7 linked regions of the Homo sapiens genome follow. The protein of the gene in region 2 purifies or fractionates together with the protein of the main gene of each other region. This does not show direct contact. Each region holds a gene or a part of one and is shown on either strand. Other genes may lie near its edges. The genes, in order: AMY1C, RHOBTB1, CCDC138, WDR43, MOB2, GRSF1 and MYO5A.

Region 1 (4,283 bases), on a different chromosome or scaffold from region 2:
TCCCCAGTGTCCAATGCAAGGAAGTCACCATAGAATATCTCTTGAGGAATCATGGAATAAATGAATAATCAAATGGATTCTCAGGCGAAAAGTGAGGTTTTATTAATCAATCATAACATTCTTACCTCAACAGGTCAGAGATTGTCGTCTGTCTGGTCTTCTCGATCTTGCACTGGGGAAGGATTATGTGCGTTCTAAGATTGCCGAATATATGAACCATCTCATTGACATTGGTGTTGCAGGGTTCAGAATTGATGCTTCCAAGCACATGTGGCCTGGAGACATAAAGGCAATTTTGGACAAACTGCATAATCTAAACAGTAACTGGTTCCCGGAAGGTAGTAAACCTTTCATTTACCAGGAGGTACGTCAATACATATAGGCATATAAAATATCATCCTATTCATTAGAAAATTCACGGCAGATTCAATTAAAAATGCAATTTCTGTAGGATAAAGACTGAGTCATTTCCTTAAAACAGTGTTCTTTAACCTCCTCTTCTTCACATACAGCATATCTAATTCTTTATCACAACAGGTTTTATGGAGGTACACAGAATGTAGGATACTGATAATAGTTATGTCTTTATTTTCTTTGGAAAATGAAATGAGTTAATATTTATCAAAAAAAGTCAGTCAGATAGTAAATATCGTATTCCTGTGAGCTGTTATTATTATCATTGATGTACAAGACTAAAAATTAGGTAAGTATTCTCACAGGACAACAGGTAACTTTGACATTATGTTTCTTTCAATATTGTAGTGTATACTTTATCAAAAAAAGAATATAAGAATATTACCGATGAAGATAATAAGAATAAGAAAACGATTTTGAGCGTTTCATATAACAAATAGGACCAGGCGTGGTGGCTCTTGCATGTAACTCAGCACTTTGGGAGGCTGAGGCAGGAGAATTCCTTGAGGCCTGGAGTTTGGGACCATCCTGGACGATATAGCAAGACCCTGTCTCTAAAGAACAAAGCACAACAAGTCTAAAATAACTCAGAAATAGCTGAAAGCTAATTTTTATATAATATAAACTTATCGGTTAAAATGCTTTAAAGTCCTTATGCAAAATGTTTTTTTTTCCTAAATTTCTTCTAGGTAATTGATCTGGGTGGTGAGCCAATTAAAAGCAGTGACTACTTTGGTAATGGCCGGGTGACAGAATTCAAGTATGGTGCAAAACTCGGCACAGTTATTCGCAAGTGGAATGGAGAGAAGATGTCTTACTTAAAGTAAATAAATACAACTTTTCCCCTGAACTATTTCATAGATCTGTTAGTCATACTACCCCAGTGCGAGTTATCTTCTGGAACATTCTTATTCAGACAACTATTAAGGAGTCAGTTGTTAATGATAAGTATTCTAGTGCCCTAAACTCTAATCAATCATCTTTTGTATTTAGAGTGTCTGTCACAAGACAGTATGCCTAGGAACGCTAAACTTACCCTAGGAGTTTCTGTCTGCGTACAAGATGAATATACTGGATTTGACTGATGTTTGCATATAATCTTTTAAAGCCAGGTTATTATTAAAATGATCCTATCATTTATAAAGTATGTACAAAGTGTCCATGCTATTGTATTTACTTATACGAATTGGAAATGTAAAATGATTTATATTATAACAATACAATATTAAAGCCTTATTTTAATCTAGTTTGACATTCTGTATAATGTGATGTGGATATTGATCCTTCTGGAGTGCCTCTAAATGATAATGTGCTGAAACCTCTGAAAGGAAATTTTTTAATAACAAACATTTTATATTTGTAATATGAATATAAGTATTCCATACATGTATATACAAATATGGACTATATATATGTAGATTACACACGTGTGTTTGTTTATGAGGTGTGTGTGTATATATATGTGAGTGTGTGTTTGTGTGTGTGTGTGTATATATATATATCTTACAGAGTAACCATCTAATTAGAGAAAGAATTTAATCTTCAGATGCCATGCCTTACAGAAAGAGATGCACAGTAGAGTTACTCTCAAACTATTGTGAAATGATACATCAACGTATATCTTATGTTTCAAAAATAGGAACTGGGGAGAAGGTTGGGGTTTCATGCCTTCTGACAGAGCGCTTGTCTTTGTGGATAACCATGACAATCAACGAGGACATGGCGCTGGAGGAGCCTCTATACTTACCTTCTGGGATGCTAGGTAGAAAACCAAGTTCTCTATTTTTTAACACCTCTTTTAATGATGGTATGAATATTGTGATATTCTATGATAATATAATTATGTAACTTTCAGGCTGTACAAAATGGCAGTTGGATTTATGCTTGCTCATCCTTATGGATTTACACGAGTAATGTCAAGCTACCGTTGGCCAAGATATTTTGAAAATGGAAAAGTAAGTTTTGGAGTTGTTCAAAATATCCTTTTCTCAAGAAAAAAGAGGCAATCTTCTCCTAATTTAATATGACAACTATTAAGTGTTTATTTATTCAACAAATATTTAATTATTGTAAACCTGATACAGGGTTGTGATTTAGTAATGCAGGTTATATTAAAGGAATAAACTTTATATTCTCCATTGAAAAAGAATAGCAAGCTTTTTCAGAGATATGACAAACATCCCCCTAGCCCGCAGGGAAAATAAAAATAAAAATTAAAAAAACCACTTAAAAATAAGAGCTAGGCACAGGGATTAAAATATATACTTCGTACCTTCCTCAGGTTTAATTGGAAGAATATAGATGCCAACCCTTGTAGAGAACTTAAAACATCATCTGCCCGTAGTGAGAACAATATAAATGTCTTTTAAATACTGTTAAAAAGTTATATGGTATAGAAACAAATGATCCAGTTCAGCTGAGTTAAATAGGGAAAGTATACTATAAGAGGAAGGAAATTGTATGTACTAAAGGATAGAAATTTATAGAGAGTATTCCAAGAAAGGTAAGAATGAGAAAAATATTTGGGAGTATGGTAAAGACATCACTCTGCTGAGTAGTTTCAAAAAGGAACAGAGAAATAAGAGTGTAAAGATATTTGGAAAGCTAGTAGAAGGTTTTCTTTTAAACTAAAGGGTTGAGAAACAGCATCAGAGACTTCAGAACTAAAGCAGAAATTCCTCCTTCCTATGAGTCACACAGATATCTAGCTAGCTTTTTTTAGATTCCTTTCAGTTTGAGAAGTCCGCTACTATGTATAACAACTGATTCTATTGTTAAACAGCTTTAATATTTAGAAGGTGTACTTTTATATTGAGACAACTTCTTATAATTTCTACTAATTGGTCTTATTTCTGTTGTTAGGAGTCAGAGAGTTCTTTTATTTTTTCTATTACTATAACATTCCCACTTTGACAGGACTGCTGCATGCTATAAACTCTTAAGTTTTGTTCACTTTTCACCATATGACGTGATTTTAAGGTGAACACTGATAAACTTCCTAGGGTTACTCTGTGTTTTTTAATGAAGATTTCTTAAAGTGCCAATCAGAAAAGCATAATACTAAAAATATGGTCAATTTATAAAAAAAAATGTTCAGATGTAGTATTTTGTACATTTATCTAAAAAGAAGCATGACGGCCTCCAATATTTATTTAGCATATGTCATGTTCAAGGCATTTTCACATATATTACTTAATTTTTATAGCAAAAGAACTCATTATTCTCATTTTACAAATGAGGAAACTGAGACACAGAGAAATTATTTATATTGATTAAATTTTCTCAGCTACTAGTAATAGAGCCTATGTTTTAATCCTGGTGTTTCTAGTACTAATGCCCTTCCCATTTCAATGCCATTGCATGGCTTACAGTGATGTTAAGAAGCCCTTGCAGGCCAGGTGCAGTGGCTCACACCTATAATCCCAGCACTGTGTGCGGCCAGCTGAGAAGGTCAGCTGACCTGAGGAGTTCAAGACCTATCTGGGCAAGCTAGCAAGACCTTGCCTCTACTGAAAATTAAAAAAAAAAAAAAAATTAGCTGGGTGCGGTGGTGCACACCAACAGTCTTAGCTACTTGGGAGGCTGAGATGGGAGGTTCGCTTGAGCCTCGGAGATCAAGGCTGCAGTGAGCTACGATCATGCCACTGTACTCCAGCCTGGGTGACAGAGCAAAGAAGTCTTTGCAGTGCCTTGGAATGAAAAGGAGAGGATAACAATTTGCTACCTTTGTTTGAAATATGGCAAAAGAGAACCAGAGGATAGAGAGATGATGAAGACCCAGTAAAGGGCTATAAAAATCAATGAAGGCATTGGATTCTAGATAAAGTCACTGAATGCAGAGACACAAGTAACAGGATAGGTTGGGTTTG
Region 2 (3,500 bases):
ACCCAGAGGAAGAAAGGGAGGAGGGCCCGCCTAGGATTCCTCAGGCCGACCAGTGGAAGTCTTCAAACAAGAGCCTGGTGGAGGCTCTGGGGCTGGAAGCCGAGGGTGCAGTTCCTGAGACACAGACTTTGACCGGATGGAGTAAGGGGTTCATTGGCATGCACAGGGAAATGCAAGTCAACCCCATTTCAAAGCGGATGGGGCCCATGACTGTGGTCAGGATGGACGCTTCAGTCCAGCCAGGCCCTTTTCGGACCCTGCTCCAGTTTCTTTATACGGGACAACTGGATGAAAAGGAAAAGGATTTGGTGGGCCTGGCTCAGATCGCAGAGGTCCTCGAGATGTTCGATTTGAGGATGATGGTGGAAAACATCATGAACAAGGAAGCCTTCATGAACCAGGAGATTACGAAAGCCTTTCACGTAAGGAAAGCCAATCGGATAAAAGAGTGTCTCAGCAAGGGAACGTTCTCGGGTGAGTGGGCCGCGGGGCAGAGCCATTAATACCTTTGATTGTGTTTCATTGAACGTTAGCCAGACATGAGCAGGAGAAAGAAGAACGATAGCTAACATTTATACGTACTTATTTTTTCCCATGTACCTTTCTAAGCTACAGGCATTAACTTCTTTAATCCTCATCAGACTTAAAGGTTAAATATGATTGTCTCCATTTTGCAGGTGGAGAAACCAAGGGACAGAGAGGTTAGGTAATCTGCCCATGGTCACACCAGCAATAAATGGTAGAGCCAGGATTTGAACCCATGCTCTTGTGGGTATCAAAACCTGTTCCATAAACCACCATGGTACCACACTGCTCCTCAAGAGTGGATCAGGGACCCCAAGCCTATCTCCAGTGGGCTTGTTGCATACAATTCCCCTTCAGAATCTATTCTCTGACCAATTCTATTCTCCATTGACCCTTCAGCACTGACCCATGACAAAAATCAGTGATCTCAAGTCCTGAGGCCACTAAAGTCCTTGAGGCAATTTTGGTGGCCCTCCATCTTCCTACAAGGGGTGTCTCATCTGTTTCCATCCCCTCTCCTTTTCCGTCCTCATGCTCCTTGGCCCTGCACTTCTGTAGTTTTCCTGCACCTCCTTTGCCTTTGATAACTATGCCATATGCTGCCCGCAGCACCCTTTCATAATTGTTAAGCATGCTGGTGGCCCGCATCCAATATGGGTTATTGACCCATGCTTGTACTGTCTTACACTTGGACTATTTTTGTTCTGAAATTGTTCTCTGGGCTGGTGTGTGGGTGTGTGTAATTTCATCGTAAAATGTTGACTTCCTGACTTCTATTTATATGGATACCTCTACCTTTGTCTTTATCTTTTATAATCCCTGCCAGGGCATTACACATTTAGTAAGTGGTTCCTAAAGACTCAGTTCATTCATTTTAAAGCTTATGAGTAGTATTTACTTCAAACACTGGCCATTGTGTTACAGAAACAGTCTTGAAAATTAATGAAAAGAATATGTTACAAACCTACAGTAACTTAAACAGTGAGCTTTAGGTAGAGTTGATTAAATCACCTCCTCCTTACTGGAGAGGCATAATAATCAAATACAATGTGGGAGTCTCAATTGGATTCTGTTTTTTTTTTTTTAAAGCTATGAAATACGATTTAGGGATAATTGGAGAAATTTGAATATGAACAATATAGTGGATGATAATAGGGAATTATTTTTAATTTTCTTAGGTGTAATCATAGTATGGTTATTTAGGAGACTGTTGTTATTTTGGGAAAACTTGTGATAAGGTAGTTAGGAGTGAAGTGCCATGCTATCTGTAAAAAAAAAAAAGTCTATACACATACACAAAATTATACAAAAATACACATATAGCCAGGCATGGTGGCTAATTTGCCCACAGTCCCAGCTACTTCAGAGACTGAGACAGTAGGATTGCTGGAACCCGGCAGTTTAAATCCAGCCTGGACAACATAGCCAGACCCACCCCCCCCCACATCTCTTAAAAAAAACAGTAATTCGGTTACATTTTGGTATAGCATACGAGTAGAGCATATTATAAATGTAAGGTTTAATTGAGTATTAATAAGTAAAATGGTGTAAATTAAAAATATACGTAAAACAAACATGCCAAAATGTTAACAAGGATAAATGAGTGGTCATCATACTGTTCGTTCCACTGTTTTATATGCTTGAAGTTTTGCATAGCAAGGAGGAAAAAATATTCCCTCCTTTCTATTACTTTCTGGTTCAGAGAGTTTGTGCCGTGACTTTATGTGTGATGATGTCAAATACAGCATGCTGCCTTAGGTGGGAGCTGGGTGTGTCAAAGCTCAAAGATGGGGATTGACATAAAATCAGTAAGTAAAGACATGCAAGAGAGAGTAAGGGAGTCGCAGTTTGGTGGCTATGGGAGCAGAAGCCTTGGTTGAAGCTCTCAGCAAAGTTGGCTCATGGTTGTGTTTCCTCAATCCCTTGGCAGACGTGACATTTAAATTGGACGATGGAGCCATCAGTGCCCACAAGCCGCTGCTGATCTGTAGCTGTGAGTGGATGGCAGCCATGTTCGGGGGGTCATTTGTGGAAAGTGCCAACAGTGAGGTACGTGCCTTCCTAAAAGCATAGTGGTGTCTTTATGAATGTATGTGTGCCTGTGTATTTATATAAAGTGGGTAAACAGCCAGATGACTTTAATCCTTAAACTGGCTCCATGAGTGGTCATCATACTGTTAGTCATAATCATAAGGAGCTATTGCTCCTTAGTAGTGCTTGAGGGTTTGGTCACCTTTTTCTTAGATCTGCAGTTTTGAGGAGCTATTGTTTATTGGTCACTGGTGTGGGGGCACCTGGGTGCTTTACATGCCATATATCTTTTCATCCTCAGAGCCGTCCTCATCCATGAAGACAAGATCAGCTGTACCTCTTGGCAAATGTCACCAGGCATGGTACTATCAAAACCAAGTACAAGAGGAGCATGTCTCCCAGTAGTTCAGAAAGGGAAAAGAGTTCTTCAGCCACCTAAGTCCTGGGCTTAGCTATGCCCCTAACCAGACAGGGGACCTTGAGAAGCCGCATTCCTGTGCCTCAACCTCCTCATCTGCAAGCTGAGGGATGCACTAGATTGTCCTTCAGGTTACCATGTGCTACAATACTGTCTAAGGCTCTGCCCTGACTCTGCCTGTGTTGAGGGGATATGAGGGTTTGTTAACTTTAGGGCAACAGTAATGGAGCAAATGTTTACTCCCCTGAACACACCTCTCAAGGTACTTAGGTCTAGCGGAAGCAGCTACATCACTTGTCAGCCCCTGGCTCTATCTCTAGAAGAGACATATGCTTAGAGAAGAGCAAACAGCATCTTGGATACCCTGTGTCTTTGTCTTTCTTGTTGTTTTACTTTTAACTGACAAATAATAATTATTATACATAGTTATGGGGTACATGATGTTTCAATATACATATACTGTGGAATGATCAAATCGGGTTAATTAGCCTATCCATCACCTCAGATGTTTACCATTTCTTTGTGA
Region 3 (4,636 bases), on a different chromosome or scaffold from region 2:
TTTAGATGCAGAAATTTAAAAGCTAAAACTTATCCACATTGCAGGATCAATACTGAGTTAGGAACCAGTTGGTCACAAATTTTCATGCAGATAGGGGAAACTGCTATAAAAACTCAGTCACATGAGATTGGAGAATTGGGTCATAATAAAGGAAATTTTAAGTTTTTACCAAATCTGGTTTAAGCATTCTGATCTGCAACAGTTTGAAATGCTTTCCTTTCATTTGATTTTTTTTTTTTTTTTTTGAGATGGAGTCTCGCTCTGTCACCCAGGCTGGAGTGCAGTGGTGCGACCTCGGCTCACTGCAAGCTCCGCCTCCCGTGTTCACACCATTCTCCTGTCTCAGCCTCCCAAGTAGCTGGGACTATGGGCACCCGCCACCACGCCTGGCTATTTTTTTGTATTTTTAGTAGAGATGGGGTTTCACCATGTTAGCCAGGATGGTCTCGATCTCCTGACCTCATGATCTGCCTGCCTCGGCGTCCCAAAGTGTTGGGATTACAGGCGTGAGCCACCGCGCCCAGCCTCATTTTATTCTTAATAGATATATCAAATACCATTAGATCATATATTATTTTAGAGGTAGTTTCATGCTACTATTTCTATTTTGCCCATTTTTTTTTGTTTTATTCTCCATGAGAATTATCTATGATTCTAACCCAGTATTTTACTGTTTTGAAATTGCTAAAAGTTTTTGGAGTCACTATGACTTTTTAAATCAGAGTTAGCTGAAGGGACTGAGGCTCTAGATAATCATTTCTTAAGTGAACACAGAAGGATGTGCCTGATAAGCTGGTTTTCATTGATGGTGGAGCAATCAGCAACTGAGAGAGTAGGTAGTCCACCTCTGTTCCCTTGCTATTTCTCTGTGTCAGAAATATAGCATGATCTTATGTTCTTACATGTTTTAGAAAAATGTACAGTCACAAATAATTTTTTAAGTTGATAAAATTGTCACTTTCCAATTTTACATATTTTCAACTTTAAATTAGCCACAGATTTCACTTACTTTTAATACATATATTTGATTTAATATTTAAAATAGTTATTGGCCAGGCACAGTGGCTCATGATCCTGTAATCCCAGCATTTTGGGAGGTCAAGGTAGGAGGATCACTTGAGCCCAAGAGTTCGAGACCAGCCTCAGCAACTTAGTGAGACCCATCTCTACCGAAAAAAAAAAAAAACCTGAGTGTGGTAGTGAGTGCCTGTAGTCCCAGCTTCTTGGGAGGCTGAGGTAGGAGGATTGCTTGAGCCCAGGAGTTTGAGGCTGCAGTGAGCCATGATTGCGCTACTGCATTCCAACCTGGGCAACAGAGCAAGACTGTGTCTCAAAAAAAAAGATATATTCTGAACATGAATAAATATACTAAGATTGTACATATTTTTAACAGCACTCGACTATGACATCAACATTGAGGAGATTGGGTGAAGACATTTTTAAAGGAGTGGTAACTAAAGGAATTCAGGATAATTCTCCACAGCATTCTGTGGAGAATAAACCAAAGACAGCTGCTTTCTTTAAGAGCTCCAATTTGCCATTGAGATTTTTATCAACCTTAATTGTTCTCAAAACAGTCACTCAAGGTAAGCTTTCAATTGTACTTATGGTTAATTTTGAGAAACAATAGAGAATATCATATATTAAAGCAATTCTTTTATCAAATATGTTGTACATTTTCAGAATGAGGTTTTGAATTGTTTTATAATGGTTACACATTATAAAAAGCTACTTTTATTTGCTGAATTTGAGAAATTGAAGTCTTTAGTTGGATTCTTGCCTCCTCCCAAGAGGCCTTTGATTGTCTTAGGTCATATTCCCATAACAACCTTTGCCTACATCTATTTGTATTTGTCACATCAAATTGAAATTGCTAGTTAATTATTTTCCACTAGCGAATGTGTTGGTAAACTAGTCCATGGGCAAAATCTGGCCTACCACCTGTTTTGTAAATGAAGTTTTCTCCCACAACCATGCTCATTTGTTGTATATTGTCTATGACTCTTTGCCCTACAGTGACAGAGTTGAGTAGTTGGCAGCAGAGACTGTATGGCCCCCCAAAGCCTATAATACTGTCATCTGGCCCTTTACAGAAAATGTTTTTCAGTGCTTGCACTAGCTTGTAAGTTTCCCAAAGAAAAAACTTGTTTATAATGACCCTGCACCTAGTGTAGTGCTTCATATATAATAGTGAATAAGGAAATGGATGAATTAGAAATCCTTCAAAGTTGGCCCTAATTAATATGTGTTTAATATTTAGCTATAACAGGTTATATTATTAAATGTGATAATTTTTGTTAAAGTGAGTTATGCCAGTGTAGTCAGGCAATAAATATACCATCTTTCTGTCTTCCCTGTTTGTTAAATTTTTTGTTAAGCTCAGATTGTTGTTTTTATTAATGGGCAATGACAGTCATTTAATTTGACTTCTTTCTTTGAAGTATGTTTCATTTAGTTACTCCCGATGGTATGGAATTGATGAAAAAGTAAAAAACCATATAACTGCCTTCTTAATTATTTTGCCTCCTTATGGTTATGGTTCTCAAGATTACAATAGACTAGGTGGTTAGTGTGTGAAAGGTCACTTACGAGAAGCAGGGATTAGCTCAAAATAAAGTTCGCCACAGACCTATCTCCAAATCTTAAAAAAAAATACACACACGCTTACATACCCACAGGTAAATGGATTCTAAATAAGAATTTTAGCTGACACATCATAGCCACACATTAAAGCATAGATTCACTAAAGATCAAATAATATTAGTATCAAGAATTTGAAGCCAATTTAATATAAGAAAAATTATTAATCATTTATCATTTAACTAAGATGTTTGAAATAATATGTCAACATACATTATATCATTTAATAACATGTAATGTTCATTTCTGATAATATGCTAAGAAAAGCAAAAATGCAATAAGGGATATTTATGTGAAATAGAAGGGAATTAGGTGCTCTCTGTCACCACTTGTGTGCAGCAGTTTTGGACATCTGTAATGAGCCATGAAAAAATGAAGTATGAATATTGGGAAGGAGTAGAGAAGACCGTTAATTTGTGGAGACTCTGTATTAATCGAGGGCTTTCAAAGAAATATAACAGGGCATAAGAATATGGATAAATAATGGATGGATGAATAGGTTGATGAAGATTATTGCTGAAGTTAAATGTCAGAAATAAAGAACTTTTATTCTTCCTGCCTATGAAGACGAAGTGTTTTAAAAATAAGATGTCCCATATGGCTTAATGTATAATACCAGTTAAAATTCTAATATAGTTTGCGTAAGTTGAGGAAGTGTTAGGGAAATTTATGTGGAAAAATTTGCAACAAATGCGATGATTTATAACAAGTAAAACAGCAACACTGGGGCAGAGGCTTAGCCAACTTTAAAACAATCCTAATATGTAATGATACAAAATGAGTAATAATTTATTTAATAAATCAAAATAGGACAAAGGGAATAGGAAGTCCAGAAATGAATCAAAATTGGCACTTCATATTATGTATTGAATTAATGACTTTGCTTCCCTGTGCAAGTCATTTTTTTAAGAACATAGAATCTTAAATCATATGATACAGATGATAGAATTAGTAGACAAGTCTTTACTGCAGTTATTATAACTATATCCCTGTGTTCAAGAAGGTAAAGGAAAACATGAGCCTGGTAAGGGGATACATGGAAGATACGGGATAAAAAGACTTCAATCAGATTTCTGCAAATGAAAAACCCAGTGCCTGAAATTTAAAAATACACTGGAGAGAATTAGACACTGCAGACAAACGACTAGTGAACTGGGATACATAGCAATAGAAACTGTCCAAAATGAATTACACAGAGAAAAAAAATCTACAAAAAAGAAAACAGAACATCAGTGAGTTTTGAGACAAAATCATATATTCTAATATTATGTACTTAGAGTCTATGAAGAGGGGAGACAAAAACTATTTCAAGACATAATGGCTCCAAATTTTTGAAATATGGTGAAAACTATAAACACACAAATCCAAGGAGCATGTCCAGCTGAGCTCATGGTCACTCCTATTCCCTTTTCCTTAGCCTCCTCTAGATACATGTGTGCCATCCCTTTCCTCCACACCCTGGCCACTGGATTTCAGGAATACTGCCTCCCATGGTGACTCTCCATGACCTTTTCAGTGGCTTCATCACCTCTCCCTAGACCACAGACAGGCCCTGACACGTCTCCCTGCCTTCACTCTCTAGTCTCCCTTCACACTTGTTGTGAACGATTCTTTCTCACAAGGTTCCTGCCTAACAGATACCCTTTAAAGCTGCAGGCTCCTCAGCCTGGTGGCCTCAAAAAAGAAAAAGAAAAAAAAATCTGACACTAATCACTGTGGAACAAGGAAGAGATACAAGAGTTCTCCCTTTCCTTATAGTCTGGCCTCTCCCAGCCTAGGCACAAGGGTTTCTTATGAGCCCAAACCTGTGGGGTTCCAGTGTTCATCTACTACCTGGGGCCAAGGTACATGCTGCTGCCATCAAGAAAGAAGCCTGAATGCTGATGAGTCTCAGGGAGAAGAGCACTTTCTGACTGCAGGTGTTCTCTCCAGTAGCTGCAGGCAGGTGGGGTGTGCCTGCACACAAGACCTGGGGCTAGGAGGGTTCAACAGGATG
Region 4 (4,636 bases), on a different chromosome or scaffold from region 2:
TTTTTTTCTTTTCTTTTTTTTTTTTTTTAAGACAGTCTCAGTCTGTTGCCTAGGTTGTAGTGCAGTGCTGTGATCACAGCTTGCTGCAGCCTCAACCTCCTGGGCTCAATGCAATCTTCCTGTCTCAGCCTCCTGAGTAGCTGGGACTACAGGCGTGCACCACCATGCCCGGCCAACTTTGGTATTTTTTTGTAAAGACAGAGTTTCACTATGTTGCCCAGGATGGTCTCAAACTCCTGGGCTCAAGTGATCCCAATGTGCTTGGATTACAGGTGTGAGCCACCATGCCTGGCCAGGTATGGAAAATATTTAAATAGAAGAACATTATATGAACAAACTTAGTGTAAATACATTTAAAAGTCTAGGTGGTATAGTTAATTTTTAAGGAAACATTAATGACCAAAATTGACTTTAAAAGAAATAAAAAGTTTGAAAAAGCCAGTAGCTCTAAAATTGACTTTATAAAACTTCTCACAAGATATGCCCAGATATTTTGAAGGTTATTTGATCAGGCCTTCAAAGAACAAATCTTTTCTTTTCTTTTTTGCACAGACTCTCTCTGTTGCTCAGGCTGGAGTGCAGTGGCTCGAGGTCAATCATAGCTCACTGCAGCCTCAAACTCTTACACTCAAGCGATCATCCTGCTTCAGCCTCTAGAGTAGCTGGGACTGTTGAGCCACCATGCCTGGCCAATTTTCTTTTTTTAAAGGTAGAGATGAGGTCTCTTTGTTGCCCAAGCTGATCTTGTACACCGTGGCCTCAAAAACGGTCTTCTCGCGTCAGCTTCCCAAAGTGCTGGGAATAGAAGCATGACCCACAACACTGGGCTGTCCTTTTTGTCATGTACTGGCAATTTAGTCATTTTATGAGCCAAGTATAATCTTGATAACAAAACCTGGAAATGTCAAAAAGGGAACATTTTAGATCATCCTCAAATACCCTGAGTAGCAAATTGATTATAGAAGTGTAGGGTTACAGAGTTAATGTGCAATAATAGACAGCTAGACCAATAGATTGGCAATAGCTACCCCTGAAAAACCCGTAGTTCTGTGGACTCTTGGTGTGTTTATTGATGGTGTGTATTGTATCATTGTGGAGAAGATAGCCTGCTCAGTAAGTTGTTAGAAACACTGATAATTTATATGGAACAAAAAATTTTACCATTATCACATCACACATCACATTCCATATTGTGAGAAATGGATAAATTTGAAAGAGTGAAAATGGTCAGGTGTTGGCCATGATTTGGGAAATGGGAGCTCATGCTGTGGTGGGAGTACATGTGCATTCTTTTTAGAGAGCAACTTTGTAATCTCAAAGTTGACAATTTGCATATCCTTCCATTCATCAAGTGCAGTCCCAAAGTGATCCCAAAGTGCTTGTGTGTATCCCAGTGACCAATACTTCTCCAAGTATGAACAGAGGACCTGTGGGGATGCCCAGAACTCTTTGAGCGGCTCATGATGTCCTCCGCTTTTCAATCGGTCATCTGTGGGAGGCTAGATTTTCTTCATATAGTTCAAATAAAACAACATATCCAAAAAATAGAGTGGAGAAGCAGATATGAGAAGTTTTTAATAGTGCCATTCTACTTAGTAGAATTTGTTGTTGTTTTGGAAATTCCATTTTTCAATTTTAGTGTATGTGCTGCCGAAGAGAGCACAGAAATACTGTTTTTCATTAAATTGATTTGTGTTAACATGTAATGGATGGGCATTTGTAAACAGATTAAATATTCTTAAATTTAAAAATTGAATTTGAATGTGATAAATATAGATAGACTTTTCCCACATAAACAAAAACTTTTTGGAGACCTCAGTTTTTTAAGAATGTGAAAGCATTTTAAGGCTAAAAGGCTTGACAACATAGCTTTAAAACATATATGTAGAGATTATATAAGTATGTTCATTGCAGCCTTTATAATTAAGAAAAAGACTTGTGAACAACATAATTCTTCATTAGTGGGAGCATGTTTAAAATGGTTTATTCCTTTAGCATAACACTACATTGGTGAGAGTGCCTGGAGTTGAGATCGAGTTAACACGCATAAGTTTGATTACAAAACCAAGTCAAAAAATGATACCTTCTGTGTAGCATCGTGTAATTGTATTAGTAAGCAAAATAAGGGTGGCTTGAACATAAGCTCCGCGATACTGCAACATTCGATTTGATAACTGAGGTGGCTACTAAACGACTAACGGGTGGCTAGTGTAGACAGCGAAGCTGGACAAAGGGATGATTTACCTCTCCGGCCAGGCGGAGCCAGATAGCACGGCACTTCATCACGCTGCACATAACAGGGCGCAATTTAAAACTTAGGGATCCTGGATTTGGTACATTTTCCATTTAATATTTTTGGATTGCAGTTGCCAGGGGAAACTGAAACTGGGGAAAAGGAACACATATTGGGGGAACTGCTGCATATGTCTTTCATGAATATGTACATGTGTAATTCATGGGTAGTATGATGTATGTGTTATAACAGCATACTGGAGAATGAGAAGCTCACAATAGTGGTTTCTTTTGGGGAATGGGCTTAGGGAGATGGGCATGTAAGGGAACTTCATCTGGAGATAATGATTTATTTTCTTAAGAAAAAGTAGATAGAAGAAGAATGTTAGAATATCTTAAAAAAATAGGAATCCCATTCTGTATTATTGGATAACATTAGCACACCTAATGAAATCAATTCCTTAGTTTTATCCAATGCCCAGTTTATCTTCATCTTTCTCCAGTTATCCGTAAAATATCCTTTAAAGCTGTTTTTCCCAAACTAGACTCGAGTTTTGCATCATGGGGTTGAATCTGGCTACTGTGTTTCTGAAGACTCTTTTTAGTCTTTAAGAACTCCCTTTTTCATGACATGGACTTGGTGAAGAGACTGGGAAGTGTATTTCACAGAATGCCCCACCTTATGTTTGTGGATTTGCTTCCTTTTGGTTTCTTTTAATTTGCTCCTCTAAGCTACAGTTCCTTTAAACTGGATGTGAGGCCTAAAGGTTTGATTGGATTTTATTTTTGGAGGGTTGCATCAATGCTGATCGTTCATATTGCAGCACACTAAGAACCACATTGTGCCTGTTATCAGTTTTTTCCTCTCCATTGTGAGATATATCTTCCTTAGTGCTTAGAAAATAATCTAGCTGTGTTAATTTTTGTTTTAACGTTTGCATGTTTTCCCCCAACAATCATACATCTAATATATCAGTTGCTAATATTTCATTATTAGTACTTTATGGGTTAAATAATGCTAATTCTTCCATTTCGTTTATAAGCCAGCTTTTCTGTGTTGAATTTTTCCTCATCCACTGGGGCTATTTGGTGGCCCTGATAGGGCTTAGTATTTAAAGATGAGATTTTTGTAAGGGTTTGGCTAGTTGGTTTGGACCGGTGAGATCTTGAAGGAATAATATAATGAATATACTTTTATACATGTAAGAATAAATTAGCCAGGTGTGGTGGCTCATGCCTATAATCCCAGCACTTTGGGAGGCAGACGTGAGCGGATCCTTTGAGTCCAGGAGTTTGAGATCGGCCTGGGCAACATGGTGAAACCCTGTCTATACCAAAAATTAGCTGGGTGTGGCGGCTACTCAGGAGGCTGAGGCAGGAGCCTGAGGCTTGAACCTGGGAGGCAGAGGTTGCAGTGAGCCAAGATTGCTCCACTGCACTCCAGCCTGCAAAAAAAAAAAATAATAAAATAATGTTATTTCTTAGTTGGATGATTGCTAAATATAAATAATATTTCTAAAAGTAAATTCAGGAATCTGGTTCTGCTTAATTTCCAGGCTGTACCCTCTGTTTTGTTCTAAAATTAAGGCTGGGTTCTTTCTCCCCTTACAGAGTCTTCTGAAGAGGAGTCTGATGATGAAATAGCAGATAAGGATTCTGAAGTGAGTGATTTGTTCCCTGTATATACATCGGCCTTTATATCCTCATACTCTGTAAGAATGAGACCTTCATGAATGCTTTCCTTGTTGGTATTTCGACTAGGATAATTGGGATGAAGATGAGGAGGAGAGTGAAAGTGAAAAAGATGAGGACGTTGAAGAGGAAGATGAGGATGCCGAAGGAAAAGATGAAGAAAATGGCGAGGACAGAGATACAGCAAGTGAAAAAGAATTAAATGGAGATTCTGATTTAGATCCTGAAAATGAAAGTGAAGAAGAATGAAGACAGCAAAGCAAGCCGGTCAAACTATATAAACTCTGGCTCACCTTGCCCAGTGGTGAGGGCTGCCTCTGTGCCAGGATGCCAAGGACCGCTGCACATTTCCAAATTCACAGCAGTGGATCCCATGCCACTTTGCTGTCCTGAGCACCCCAGACTTGACTGTGTAAATAAGAGTGTTTCATTCAAATGTTAATAAACTTTACACAGTATATAGACACATTTTCTGCAATGTACTGACATCAGTGTCCAATATATGGTATATTTTTATAATATAATATCCTAGTATGATTGGTTATATCAAGAATTGACAAGTGCAGATAAAGACCTTTCCCATAGGAGTTCAAGAACTGGACTGTTGTGAAGAAGTCAGCTCTTATCTCAGGTTGGTATCTTTCATCAAATCCAGATGCAAAGCAGCACTAGTGAAAATTTTTTTAATTTAGTACATTTAATTTGGTACATT
Region 5 (4,636 bases), on a different chromosome or scaffold from region 2:
AGCCCACCAAGGCACCTGGGGAGACGCCCCAAGGGCTGAGACAGGGCCACGGGGGGCTCGCCCACTTCCTGCGCAGCCAGAGAAGCCATCCTCCCAGCTGGGCACAGGGCCTCCAGTGTCTCCGGGCACAGGGCCTCCAGCGTCTCCGGGCACAGGGCCTCCAGCATCTCTGGGCACAGGGCCTCCAGCGTCTCTGGGCACCCCTCTGCTGTGTCCAAGAAGCCCCTCAGCCTGTGCACTGCAGATCCCGGGGGGAGTCACCAGAGTTACCAAGAAGCTAGAGGATGACACTGCAAGCCCTGCATGCTGGCACCCTGCCCTCTGCAACAGAAACAGCCATCAGGCCACCTCCCAGCACCACCAGGGCCCTAGGACAACCCCCTCCCAGCACCCACCTCCAGAATGCAAACCAGGAGCTCTCATGTGTGCCCTGTGCGGGGCTGACTCAGCCCACCCGAAGGGGAAGTGCAGCCCCAAAATGGACAGGCCATGAGGACGGGGATGCAGTGCCCACACCTGCCTCTCAGGTGCTGTCCTCCCCCTGGGACAGCTCTGCATGACCTTCACGCCCACCTTCCCAGGCTGCAGGCCTCACCGTGGGCATCGCCACCAGGCTGTCAGACCCTCTGAGAATGCAGAGACAACAGTCCTTTCAGCATCTGCTCCTCGAGAATGATGTAGAGGACGCACGTATCCCCACTGTCCTGGGGTTCCCAGATGGTGTAGGGGAGGCCCAGCCCCTAAGGGCCAGGCTGAGGCCCATGTTTCCAGGGCGAGGACCCAGCCAGGATGGCTCAGCACTCTGCAGGAGTCAGACACTGGCTCCAGGTACCCTGACACTGCAAGCTGACATCTGATGCACCTGGCCACAGGTGTGCGACAGGTCTCAAAACAGTGGAGGTTAGAGACGGAAACCCTTTTCCACAATGCAAACCCAGAGAAAGCAGTAACTCAGGGACACTGTGGATTGTCCCATCTGTTCTGAAAGATGGAACACCACTGTTTCCTGTACTTCTTCAATTATCAGTAAACCGTTTCTGGTATATAGTTCTAAGATTTTTATCCACATGTGGACTCACGCATTCATAACCACAATCAGGACACGCGGCGGCTTACGTGGCCCCTCACACCCGTGCTGCTGTGCCCCCAGCACCCCGGGGATGGCTCCTCAGGGATGGGCCGCGGGAAGGAATCGCACCGCGCGGATCCTCCCGATCTGGGCCCCTCTTGCACGGAGGCCCCTGGGATGCAGTCACGTGGCAGACGTGTCGGAAGTCCACGGCTCCTCACTGCCCAGACACTGCCCCTGCAGAGATGGACATGGCGTGCTCATCTATTCACCTGTGTCCCTGCCAGCAGAACAGAGTCCCAGGTGGCCACATCCTGGCCAGCACCAGTGTCCCGACCGGCATGTGGGCAGGTGGACATGGGTCTGCCCATGGTTTCGGCTTGCCTTTCTCTAATTGCTAACAACACAGGATAGCCCCAGCTGCCATCCTTACACCCTCTTTGGCAAACTGTCTGCTCATTTCTTTTGCTGACAGTTAACTGGACTGTTTTGTTTTCTTACTGCTGAGTTGTGTATGTTCTTTATGTATTCTGGATATCAGTCCTTTGTGGGATGTGTGATTTGCAAATGTTTTCTCTCCCAGCCTGGAGTTTGTCTTCTTTCTCTTAAAAGTGTCTTGAAGCAAAAGTTCTGAATTTTGCTGCCTAGTGTCAGGTCATAAGGATTTCCTATGGTTTCTTCCAAAAGCTTTGGAGTTTTAGATGTTTGCACGAGGCATGAGGGATAGGTCAGCGTTTGGTTTTTGACACAAATGACTGCTTTTCCCAGCAGCATTTTTGAACAGACTACCCTTTCTCCCTTGAATTTATTTTGCTCTTTGTCAAAACTCTGATGGCCCCGTTTGTGTGGGTCTATCTCCGGACTCTCCATCCACACGTTTGTGTGGGGCTGTCTCCGGACTCTCCATCCACACGTTTGTGTGGGTCTATCTCCGGACTCTCCATCCACACGTTTGTGTGGGGCTGTCTCCGGACTCTCCGTCCACACGTTTGTGTGGGGCTATCTCTGGACTCTACTGTGTTCCATGGAGCTCTGTATCCATTCCTTCAACACTGCACACTGTCTTAATTACTAGAGTTTCACAGTAAGTCTCAAAAGTGTGAGATTCCTCTTATTTTTTCAAAATCATTGTAGCTATTTCAGTTAATTTGTCCCTCCATATAAATTTTAGAACTAACTGGTCTATACTTGAACTCTGCTGGGATTTGGATTGAGACTGCACTAAATCAACAGATCAGTTTGGGGGAGAATTTGTGTTTGGAGTCATCTTCCAGGTGATAAACGCAGTGCGTCTCTCCATTTATGTAGACCTTCGATTTTCTGTAACAGCATTTCGTAGTTTCCAGGGTGCAGATCCTGGGAATGTCTTGTTAAGTTTATAACTAAGGATCGCATTATTTTTGGAGCTATTATAAATGGCATGTTAAATATTAATTTCAGTTTTAAATTTCACATTGCTAATATACAGACCTATGACTGATTTGTGCGTGTTGACCTCACTAAATTTATATTATTATTTGCTACAATCCTTGAGGTTTTCCCAATCACACGTGTGCACAGGGATACAGCAATCCCCCCCATCCACAGGGGATGCACTGCAAGACCCCCAGGGGATGCCTGAAGCCACAGAGAGCACCAAACCCTATATATGCTGCGCTTTCTCCTATACATACATTACTAAAATAAAGACAGGCAGACTTGATTGATTGACTGAGATAGGGTCTCGCTGTGTTGCTAAGTTAGTCTCGAACTCCTGAAGTGATCCACCGCCTCAGCCTCCTGAGTAGCCAGGATTACAGGTGTGAGCCACCACACCCAGTGTAATTCATAAACTGAGGACAATCAGTTGCAGTGAGTGGCTGGGGTCGCATATCAGGGGGTCCCTTGCTGGCCTCCTGCAGGCTCAATGGCAACACGCTGCTGCTCCCATCCTCTCACCTCCTCCACCCACAGATCCAAGTACTCAACACGCACTGTGGCTGTCACTTTTGCAATTTCAGATGTAACAGCGAAATTAAAGGGACTTTTTTTCCCTTTTTCACAATTTCATAAAGAAGAGATTTGTTCTTACCTTAGATCTTAGCAACCTCACACACAATCTGTTTCTTTCTAGTCAGGAACTTTCACCTTTTCATCTTTAGGTCAAGGAAGTGCTTTCTGTCTTCTCTTTGGCATATCTGAATTGCCAGCATCACGCTCTTGCGCTTTGGGCCGCCTCATGTCACATAAGAGCAACCTGAGCACGAGCACCCTGGCACTGCGGCAGTGGATCCACACGGGGGCCGAGGCACAGCTGGGCCGAGGGAGGAGGAGGCACACCTGGAGCAGGACGGTGGAGACCGCATCACACTGCTCAGAACAGCATGCAGTTGAAAACTTATTAACTGTTTATTTCGGGAATTTTCCATTAACTATTTTCAGACCATAGTTGACTGTGGGTAACGGAAACTGTAGATAAGGGGGGCTTATTGTTTTATTTCTTTTCCAATTTGGATGCCTTTTATTCTTTCTTCTTACCTTATGGCACTGCCTATCTTAGGCGAGTTCTGATATACTGCGCTTTCCAAAGAGTTGGTCCATTTAACCCAAGCCATAGAATTCATGTGCACAGAGGGTTTTTTTCCAATACTTCCTTATTATCCTTTTAACATCCACTGGGTCTACAGTGATACTCCTCTTTACATCCACAGGGTTTAGTGACACTCACTCCTTTTTATTGATCATTGCATCTTCTCTCTTATCTTTGTACCTACTAAAGGCTTACCAATTTATTACCTTTCAAAGTCATCACATTTTGATTTCACTCATTTCCCCTATTGTTTTAAAAATCAATCTCAGTGCTTTCTGTTCTTATTTACTTTCTTGTCCTTGATTTTGACTTATTTTGCTCTTTTTCTAGTTTAAGTTGGAAACGTAGATTACTGAAAGTCATCTTCTTTTTCTAAGAAAGCATTAATCCTATAAATCCCCTCTAGGCACTGCTTGAGTTATGTCTCACAAATTCTGACATGCTGTATTTTCCTGTGTACAGTTTGTTAAAGTTTTTTTGTTGAGGCATCCTCTCGGACCCATGGACTACTCAGAATTGTATTAGTCTGCAAGTGTTTGGAGACTTTCCTGTTCTCTGTTACTGATTTCTAATTTAACCCCACCATGGTCAGAAAACTTACTTCGTATGGTTTTGATTTTTTAAAATTTGTTAAGGGCTCTTTTGTGACAGGTATGCTCCATCTTGGTGGCTAATCTTTGTGAAGTTGAAAAGATGGGTGTTCTGCTGTTGAGGCTGCAGTGCATGTGTCATTTCAATCCAACCCACGGGTGGGGTCATCGGGCTCCGTGCTCTCGCTGACTGTCTATGAGGCTCCATCACTGAGGAGAGGGCTGCAATCCCCGGCGATCATGTGATTTCTACACAGGCCGTCCGTTTGCTTTGTGTGGAAAGCCCTGTTGTCTGGCGCACACACATTTATGGCAGGATTTCTTCAAGAGCTGCTCCTTTTCTAATTAGATAACCTTCTTATTCCTGGTCACTTCCTTCCTCGGAGTCTCCTTTGGCACTGACATAGC
Region 6 (4,636 bases), on a different chromosome or scaffold from region 2:
GCGAGCATGGTGGCTCACACCTGTAATCTCAACACTTTGGGAGGCCGAGGACAGTGGATCGCTTGAGGTCAGGAGATCAAAACCAGCCTGGCCAACATGGTGAAACCCCATCTCTACTGAAAATACTAAAATTAGCCGGGCATGGTGGCGCCTGCCTGTAATCCCAGCTACTCGGTAGACCAAGGCGGAAGAAATGCTTGAACCCGGGAGGCAGAGGTTGCAGTGAGCCAAGTTCACTCCACTGCACTCCAGCCTGGGCGACAGAGCGAGACTCTGTCACAAAAAAAAGTAATACCAAGCCACACTTTTCAGCTACAGAAAAAGAAGCAAGCTTTGCAACCAGGAAGATGCCATCTTACTATCCAACGCAGAAACACTATATTTTCTTCTCTACCTTCCCCAAATTAATACAAGTTCAATTTTAGAACTTTTGTTCAAATCTATTGAGATTGGATATCTTACTGCCACACACGTTTATAATGTCTTGGGCATTGGCTTGGAAAGGTAATCCTCTCATGTGGACAAAATGCAGAGAAGACGTAGTTCCAAAATCAGCAGCCTCTGGAAGCTTTTCTGGCACCTCCTTAGGCAATTCTGAGAGGTGGAACAGAAAGCACTGTTAAAACATAACAGCTTCAAGGGTTATTAACAGATTCTAATTAGGTATGACTTTTATGTCCAAATCCTCAATTCCTCTTAAGAGCATTAAAAGCCAAAATGATCTGAAATTTCTGCCACTCAACAAATATCACCTGAACACCCATAAGCACTGAATGCCTCAGACCATTACCAGTTTAAGAACTTAGCCCTTTTTGTAACATCAGAGAGCAGGTAAAATGATTATGAATTAAACCCTAAAAGAGACTTTCTAGATTATAGGCACTGAAAAAAAAAAAAAAGAACAAAGGCTGGGCGTGGTAGCTCACACTTGTAATCCCAACACTTTGGAAGGCTGAAGCAGGAGAATCACTTGAGCCCAGGAGTTCGAGACCAGCCTGGGCAACACAGCCAGACACTGTCTCTACAAAAAATAAAAATAAAAATAAGTTAGCTGGGCATGGTGATGCATGCCTATAGTTCCAGCTACTCAGGAGGCTGGGGTGGAAGAACTGCCTGAGCCCAGGAGTTCAAGGTTGCAGTGAGCCATGATTGTGCCACTGCACTCCAGAATGGGCCACAGAACAAGACTTTGTCTCAAAAAACAAAAATATATATACACATATATATAGTGACAAGATAATCCCAGGGTACCAGTTTAAAAAGTATTTATGAAACTTAAAAGATTCCAAATGTTGCCCTGGGTTAGGAATCAAAGAAATAATTAAATCCAGAAGCAAACAAAAATCCTTACTTCAGGCGGGCACAGTGGCTCATGCCTGTAATCCCAGCACTTTGGGAAGCAGAGGCCGGCAGATCACCTGAGGTCAGTAGTTCAACGCCAGCCTGGCCAACACGGGGAAACCCCGTCTCTACTAAAAATATAAAAATTAGCCGGGCACGGTGGCAGGCGCCTGTAGTCCCAGCTACTCGGGAGGCTGAGGCAGGATGATGGCGTGAACCTGGGAGGCGGAACCTGCAGTGAGCCGAGAGTGCGCCACTGCACTCCAGCCTGGGCAACAGAGTGAAACTCTGTCTCAAAAAAAAAAAAATCCTTACTTCAGTCAATATTCCTGCTCATTATCCAAATCTTCCCCCATCTTAATTTAAATGTTGACATCTTACTTCCTTTTATCACATTTTTACTACCCAGCTTTTGATATAGTTAATAAAAATGATTAAATTAAAAACCTAGCAAAATAATTAAGCCTTTCTGCATATACTCAAAGTATGTAAAGTCCTATTAAATCTTTAGGCCGGGTGTGTTGGCTCACACCTGTAATCCCAGCACTTTAGGAGGCTGCGGCTCACTTGAGGTCAAGAGTTCCAGACCAGCCTGGCCAACGTGGCGAAACCCTATCTCTACTAAAAATATAAAAATTGGCTGCGCGTGGCGGCATGCGCCTGTAGTCCCAGCTACTCAAAGAGGCTGAGGCAGGAGAATCACTTGAACCCAGGAGGTAGAGGCTGCAGTCAGCCGAGATCGCACCACTGCACTCCAGCCTGGCAACAGAGCGAGACTTCATCTCAAAAAAAAAAAAATCACAAAACCCAAAACATTCAAGATAGACCCAATGAGTCTCAAGAAGAGGCAGGACCTTACCTATTTCCTTCTCACTTTCAAAAGCTGTCATGGGTTGAATATCCTCATTTACTTCATGTTCTTCAAAGACCATTTCTGGCTCAGTTATATACTTAGCAGTAGGAAAAGATGCGATTTTCTTTCCCTTATAAGAACCGACATGTGTTCGAACTTCATTCCTTCTGCTTGGAAATATCTCGATGTATCTATGTCAAAGCAAAAGTAAACAGGCACAAATGGTGCAAAGTAACTTTATACTGAACTCATTTAAAATAAACATGTATACATTATATTTCCAACAGCTTATGAAACACAGGTGTCAAAAGATAACAGGTAGGGAAAACTAATAATGCATACAGATAGTAGCCCATGAAAATATACAACAGAGTAGGTCACTGATTTAAGTTTTTGCATCAAGGTAACACTTTTTCTTCACATACATTTTAATAATATTTTCTACTCTGTTTTGCTTCATGAGAACAACTATGCTTAAGTTAATTGTGTATACAGAAAAAATTAATCTCATAAGGGTTTTTTAAATTGCTGGTTAACAATCTCTTGAAGCTCTGAAATTCAATTCTGTGCAAATTAATCATATCTGTATAAGATATTAAAAGTCACAGTAAAAGAAGAGCTAACTTCCCCAGAACTTCACTAAAAGGCTGAGAATTCAAGAACTAAGTATCAATTATGACTTGCTATCACAGGAGGGGACTATCTATTAAACCCAAGCTTCTGGAACAATTTTTTTTTTTGAAACTTGGGTTTCTTGCTGTCACCCAAGATGGTGTGCAGTGGTGTGAACATGGCTCACTGCAGCCTCAACCTCCTAGGCTCAAGTGATCCTCCTGCCTCAGCCTCCTGAGTAGCTGGGGACTACTGCCACCTGCCACCACACACTGCTAATTTTTTTTTTTTTTTTTTGAAGCAGAGTTTTGCTTTTGTTGCCCAGGCTGGAGTGCAATGGCACGATCTTGGCTCACTGCAACCTCTGCCTCCTGGGTTCAAGCAGTTCTCCTGCCTCAGCCTCCTGAGTAGCTGGAATTACAGGCGCCCGCCACCACGCCCAGCTGATTTTTTGTATTTTTAGTAGAGACAGGGTTTCACTATGTTGGCCAGGCTGGTCTCAAACTCCAGACCTCAGGTGATTCACCTGCCTCAGCCTCCCAAAGTGCTGGGATTATAGGCATGAGCCACCATGCCCAGCCCACACACTGCTAATTTTTTTATTTTTTATTTTTGTAGACATGGGTTCTTGCCATGTTGCCCAAGTTGCTCTTGAACTCCTGGGCTCAAGTGATCCTCCCACTTCGGCCTCCCAAAGTGCTGGGATTATAGGCATGGGCCACCGCGCCCAGCACAGTTTCCTTTTTCTTAACATGGCCTTCTAAACTAAGAGTTATAAAACTAGCTTGTGTTTACAAATCTATAAAGATTAGATGAGCACTACTTCTTTAAAAAAAAAACCTTTGAGCCTGGACAACAAAGTGAGACACCATCTCTACAAAAGTTTTTTTTTGTTTTTTTTTTTAATTAGCCAGGAGACCAGGTACAGTGGCTCACACCTATAATCCCAGTACTTTGGGAGGCTGAGGCAGGTGGATCACTTGAGCTCAGGAGTGTGAGACCAGCTTGGGCAACATGCAAAACCCCGTCTCTACAAAAATACAAAAATTAGCTGGGTGTGGTGGCATGTATCTGTAGTCCCAGCTACTTGGGAGGCTGAAGTGGGAGGATTGCTTGAGCCCAGGAGGCCACAACTGCAGTGAGCTGTATCACACAACTGCACTCCAGCGAGGGTAACAGAATAAGACTCTGTCTAAAATTAGCCAGGCATGGTGATGCATGCCTGTGGTACCAGCTACAAGGAAAGCTGAGATGGCAGGACTGCTTGAGCCCAGAAGGTCAAGGCTGAAATGAGCAGTGTTTGTGGCACTGCACTTCAGCCTGGGTGACAGAGCAAGATCCTGTCTCAAAAAACCAAAAAACCTTTGAACCACTTCTATCAGTAGATCCTGAAACACTGGCTTTGGAATGGCTGTTTTGTTTACTTCAAAGGAGCTGATTTAAAAGGCCAGAAAACAGTAAAAAAAAAAATTAACGAAACAGTGATTTAACATTTGACATTTTAAACTGTACCTCCAAAGTTAAAGTTAAAACACAAATGAACCCACTTATCATCATGTGCATCCTGAGGTGATGTCAACATGAGATACTGTACAAGACAACTGATCTAATTTCTTCAAAAGTCAATTGCTTTTAAAAAGGGGGGAAGAATAAGTAAGGGGGATTTGCTCTAGTTCAAGAGAATCAGTGGTCAGGTGCAGTGGCTCACACCTGTAATCCTAGCGTTTTGGGAAGCCAAAGCGGGCGATCACTTGAGCCCATGAGTTTGAGGCCAGCCAGGGCAACACAGCAAGACCCCACCTACAAACACACACGCACGCACGCACACAC
Region 7 (4,636 bases), on a different chromosome or scaffold from region 2:
GAATAAGGAAGGGCCCAGCTCTCCAGACCCATACCACTCCCCTCTCCCACGTTTTCTCCAAGATGGTTGTCAGTGCCCTGCTTTTCTTACTGTTTTTGCCTCTGGGGCTCAGATAACATGGAGAATGCTTATCTTAACCCGAACTGCTACCTACCACTCTCAAAAGCCCACCCAAGACACACACACTTGTTCTATCACAAGGCTACTGCTTCTTAACGCTTCTTATTTTAGAAAAGACACCATTAAGTTTACTTAGATTCATAGTAAATTTTTGCAATTAAGAATTATTCCTTCAGTAAAGTTTAAAATCCGGAAGCCCTTTTGTAGTGAAGTTCCTTTTCCCTCTATTTTGGCACCCAGATCATTTTTTTCTTTTTTGAAATGGAGTCTCTCTCTGTCACCCAGCCTGGAGCCCAGATATGTGGTCTCAGCTCACTGCAGCCTTTGCCTCCCAAGTTCAAGTGATTGTCCTGCCTCAGCCTTCTGAGTAGCTGGGATTACAGGCACACGCTACCACGCCTGGCTAATTTTTGTATTTTCAATAGAGACGGGGTTTCCTTATGTTGGCCAGGCTGGTCTTGAACTCCTGGCCTCCAGTGATCCACCCACCTCGGCGGCCTCCCAAAGTGCTGGGATTACAGATGTGAGCCACCGTGCCCAGCTAATTTTCCTAAGTTGAATGTGCATGTGTTTGTGCACATGGATATGTGCACATGAAAGGTTCCCTTCCACATCATCTCCTCTAACAATTGAAATACTCCTGCAGTCTCAGGCATGCTGGAACATGAAACGATTCAGGGCGTGTCTGGGGTGAAGCCCACAGGGTTGAGAAAGCGAACCTCCAGTATCGCCGATGAGGGCACCTACACACTGGACTCCATCCTCCGGCAGCTCAACTCCTTCCACTCGGTCATGTGTCAGCATGGCATGGACCCTGAACTGATCAAGCAGGTGGTCAAGCAGATGTTCTACATCATAGGGGCCATCACCCTGAACAACCTTCTCCTGCGGAAGGACATGTGCTCCTGGAGTAAAGGCATGCAGATCAGGTGAGCAAATGCCAACACCTGCGACAGTGTCTTTTTGCTGCCCAGCTGGCCTGCCAGGGTTGTGGAGAGCTGATGACTTGTTTTCAGTTCTTGCATCTCATGTCTGGTGCCATGTGGCCAAGCAGCAAGGGAGAAACTGGCACGGAGCCACTTTCCCTTGCCTGGCTGGATTTCACCACATCTCATTATTGCTCCCTGTCTGTACCCTGCCAACAGGTTCTTCACATTCTTGATAGGAAACCCTTTTCCACTGTGAAGCTTGCTTATTTGGGGGAGTGAAGAGATGATGCAAAAATACACAAAGATGAGATAGCTGCTTCCTCTCCTTATGTGTGTGTTTTAATTATACAATAAGAAATTATTAAATTATAATAATGAAGATTTCTAATGTTTGATTGCTCTTAGAAATATATTTTTGGAAAAATACCTTTTTGTACCTATGGCAACAAGAACAGGTCTGATAGATCTTTTACTAATTCTTAAAATATCCCCCCTCTATATTTTAAGAAAAGCTGCACTTAATTTTATGCCCAATACTCCTCAGCATAACCTCATTATTGTAACATAATTTTTTTGCAAATTTTTTTTTTTTTTTTTTTTTTTGAGATGGAGTTTTGCTCTTGTTGCCCAGGCTGGAGTGCAATGGCGCCATCTCGGCTCACTGCAACCTCTGCCTCCTGGGTTGAAGCAATTCTCCTGCCTCAGCCTCCCAAGTAGCTGGGATTACAGGCATGCACCACCACACCCAGCTAATTTTTGTATTTTTTGTAGAGACAGGGTTTCACCATGTTGGCCAGGATGGTCTCAAACTCCTGACCTCAGGTGATCCACCTGTCTCGGCCTCCCAAAATGCTGGGATTACAGGTGTGAGCCACCGTGCTGGGCCACAAATTTTTTATTTTAAAACAGCTAGAATATTCACCAAGAGGAGGGAAAAATGATTTCTCCTATCAAAGTCTTAGTAGTTACTCAATCTCAGGAACTGTTAGTGTTCTTTTCAAATTTTCCATCCTGACTTACATTGAAGTGTAGTGAATTTTAAGACAATAATGCCTTCCTCTCAGATAGTGGAGCATATTTCTCTATAAGCTCTGCATGGAAATGTGGAGCCACCTGTCGCAATATTATGCTGGCCCCTATTTGCCTGGTTGCTAAGTGCTGATTGTGTGTCTATTGACCTCAGTCTTAGGACTGCTGCCACTTGGTTGGCTATTTTGTGAAACCTACAATGTCTTTGTAGTTTGTCTCTGTCACCATTTGGAGTCTTTGTCTCTTCCAGTGGCCCTCCCTTGCCTCTCTCTCCTTTCATCCCGGAGCTTTCTCAGGCCACCATCTTCATCTCCTAGGCTCTTCCCTTAAGGCTTCAGCACAGGTATATGTGGGGCTTTTGGTTATTCAGTTACCTGATTTGGAGTTTGCCTTAAGAGAGAGTGCTTCAAGGATTATCAAGTCTCACCCTGCAACAGCAACCCAGCTCTGAAATTGTAAGAGAAGCTACAAAGTGTTTTCTGGCCAGCTCCCCAATAAAGACAGAGCTACATTATGTTATTCTATTTTGTTTATTAGCAAGTCTAATAACTTTTGCCATAATGACTTCATTTCCATCTTCCATTAAAGAGAATTACATTATCTTGTCATTTAGTCTTATATAATGGTGATTATAATCCTCATGACTATAATAAATTTTTAAGCACAGCTGATGAGATTTAAGAAAATTGAACAAAAATACTGCCTGTCATTTTAACATAAATCCTGACAAGGCCGCACACAAAAAAATTAAGACATTTTTGACAAAATTCAGCAAATTTGCATTCTCTGTATCTCTTTTTTTTCATAGGTACAATGTCAGTCAACTGGAAGAATGGCTGCGTGACAAGAATCTGATGAATAGTGGGGCTAAAGAAACCCTGGAACCTCTCATTCAGGCTGCTCAACTTTTGCAAGTGAAAAAGAAAACAGATGATGATGCAGAAGCCATTTGTTCTATGTGCAATGCTTTAACTACTGCCCAGGTAGAGCAACTTTCCCTGTTACAAAATAATTTAACATTCATCAAAGATGATCTTTAGGGAAGTAAAGAAGTCCTCTACTTATTGCTTGTATCTCTGAGCTGACTTCATCTGTGTTCAAGAAGATATATGCCTCTACCAATCTTAAAGCAAGGAGATTTTGCCAGAAATTAATACATTTCAGTGCTAATTACAGTATAAATATATTTAATATTCAGCAAATATTTATTGAGTACTTACAGTGTTCTATATAACATTGAAGGCACTGGGATACACCCATAGGCAAAACAAAGTCTCTGCTCTCATGGAGTATACAGTCTATGCAGCTTATATTCCATAAAATAGCTTTCTATCTTATTTGATAATTGAGTGGATTATCAAATAGTGACTTTGTTTTTAGAGACAGATAATTCTTGTTACTTCAACAGATGATTAATTAAGCCTCCATCTCAAGGCACCATATTTATTGCTGGGGAAGATGCTTCAATAAATAAGGAAAAATTCCTGCCTTCAAGGAGCTTACAGTTCAGTAGGGAAGACAGAGTCGTATCCAACTGACTCTACCGTAGAGGTTCTAGCAAATTCTGTAGTAAGATGCCTAAAGGAAGTACTGAGGGAAGATAGCAGTATTCAGGGAAGGTCCCATTAATCTGGGCATTGAATTTAAGGAAGTGGAAGAATGAGAAGGGCATTTGAGGATTATAGTGACAGCATGAAGCAAGGCACAGGCATGAACATGCCCAATTTTCTTTTGCCCGGTTATTTTCTGTGCTGACTCTTAGACTTTCTTTCTTTTTTTTTTTTTTTTTTTTTTTTTGTGACGGAGTCTCGCTGTGTCGCCCAGGTTGGAGTGCAGTGGTATGATCTCCACTCACTGCAAGCTCCCCCTCCCAGGTTCACGCCATTCTCCTGCCTCAGCCTCTGGAGTAGCTGGGACTACAGGCACCTGCCACCACGCCTGGCTAATTTTTTGTATTTTTAGTAAAGATGGGGTTTCACCATGTTAACCAGGATGGTCTCGATCTCCTGACCTCATGATCCACCCGCCTCAGCCTCCCAAAGTGTTGGGATTACAGGCGTGAGCCACAGTGCCCAGCCAACTTTCTTAATGTTCATCATATATCCTACAACATATGAAATTTTCAGTTTTGCCCAATACAATTAAAACTCAATCAGTTTGAGACCAGCCTGACCAACATGGTGAAACCCCATCTCTACTAAAAATACAAAAATTAGCCGGGCATGGTGGCAGGCACCTGTAATCCCAGCTACTCTGGAGGCTGAGGCAGGAGAATTGCTGGAACCTGGGAGACGGAGGTTGCAGTGAGCCAAGATTGCACCACTGCACTCCAGCCTGGGCAACAGAAAAAATCAGTAGGCCAGGCGTGCTGGCTCACACCTGTAATCCCAGCACTTTGGGAGGCTGAGGCAGACAGATCACCTGAGGTCAGGAGTTCAAGACCAGCCAGGCCAACATGGTGAAACCCCATCTCTACAAAAATACAAAAATTAGCCAGGCATTGTGGCGGGTGCCTGTAATCCCAGCTACTTGGGAGGCTGAGGCAGGAGAATGACTTG

Evidence for each region.
Region 1: the proteins of RHOBTB1 (region 2) and AMY1C purify together in Homo sapiens (affinity purification with mass spectrometry, with the first as the bait; 2 studies listed by BioGRID). This does not show direct contact.
Region 3: the proteins of RHOBTB1 (region 2) and CCDC138 purify together in Homo sapiens (affinity purification with mass spectrometry, with the first as the bait; one large-scale study listed by BioGRID). This does not show direct contact.
Region 4: the proteins of RHOBTB1 (region 2) and WDR43 purify together in Homo sapiens (affinity purification with mass spectrometry, with the first as the bait; one large-scale study listed by BioGRID). This does not show direct contact.
Region 5: the proteins of RHOBTB1 (region 2) and MOB2 purify together in Homo sapiens (affinity purification with mass spectrometry, with the first as the bait; one large-scale study listed by BioGRID). This does not show direct contact.
Region 6: the proteins of RHOBTB1 (region 2) and GRSF1 purify together in Homo sapiens (affinity purification with mass spectrometry, with the first as the bait; one large-scale study listed by BioGRID). This does not show direct contact.
Region 7: the proteins of RHOBTB1 (region 2) and MYO5A purify together in Homo sapiens (affinity purification with mass spectrometry, with the first as the bait; one large-scale study listed by BioGRID). This does not show direct contact.

What each region holds. Positions count from the first base shown.
Region 1 is NC_000001.11:103,752,446-103,756,728, forward strand, and holds part of AMY1C (alpha-amylase 1C precursor), read left to right. Parts: intron 1-133; coding exon 134-364; intron 365-1,103; coding exon 1,104-1,237; intron 1,238-2,053; coding exon 2,054-2,176; intron 2,177-2,269; coding exon 2,270-2,369; intron 2,370-4,283. UniProt on the Homo sapiens protein: Calcium-binding enzyme that initiates starch digestion in the oral cavity.
Region 2 is NC_000010.11:60,885,186-60,888,685, reverse strand, and holds part of RHOBTB1 (rho-related BTB domain-containing protein 1), read left to right. Parts: coding exon 1-474; intron 475-2,455; coding exon 2,456-2,574; intron 2,575-2,857; coding exon of another isoform or gene 2,858-2,875; exon of another isoform or gene 2,876-3,500.
Region 3 is NC_000002.12:108,845,345-108,849,980, forward strand, and holds part of CCDC138 (coiled-coil domain-containing protein 138), read left to right. Parts: intron 1-1,393; coding exon 1,394-1,586; intron 1,587-4,636.
Region 4 is NC_000002.12:28,942,607-28,947,242, forward strand, and holds part of WDR43 (WD repeat-containing protein 43), read left to right. Parts: intron 1-3,843; coding exon 3,844-3,893; intron 3,894-3,993; coding exon 3,994-4,173; 3' UTR 4,174-4,636. UniProt on the Homo sapiens protein: Ribosome biogenesis factor that coordinates hyperactive transcription and ribogenesis. Part of the small subunit (SSU) processome, first precursor of the small eukaryotic ribosomal subunit.
Region 5 is NC_000011.10:1,472,705-1,477,340, forward strand, and holds part of MOB2 (MOB kinase activator 2), read right to left. Parts: intron 1-4,636. UniProt on the Homo sapiens protein: Stimulates the autophosphorylation and kinase activity of STK38 and STK38L.
Region 6 is NC_000004.12:70,825,652-70,830,287, forward strand, and holds part of GRSF1 (G-rich sequence factor 1), read right to left. Parts: intron 2,386-4,636; coding exon 2,201-2,385; intron 595-2,200; coding exon 473-594; intron 1-472. UniProt on the Homo sapiens protein: Regulator of post-transcriptional mitochondrial gene expression, required for assembly of the mitochondrial ribosome and for recruitment of mRNA and lncRNA. Binds RNAs containing the 14 base G-rich element.
Region 7 is NC_000015.10:52,315,473-52,320,108, reverse strand, and holds part of MYO5A (unconventional myosin-Va), read left to right. Parts: intron 1-766; coding exon 767-1,049; intron 1,050-2,886; coding exon 2,887-3,061; intron 3,062-4,636. UniProt on the Homo sapiens protein: Processive actin-based motor that can move in large steps approximating the 36-nm pseudo-repeat of the actin filament. Can hydrolyze ATP in the presence of actin, which is essential for its function as a motor protein. Involved in melanosome transport.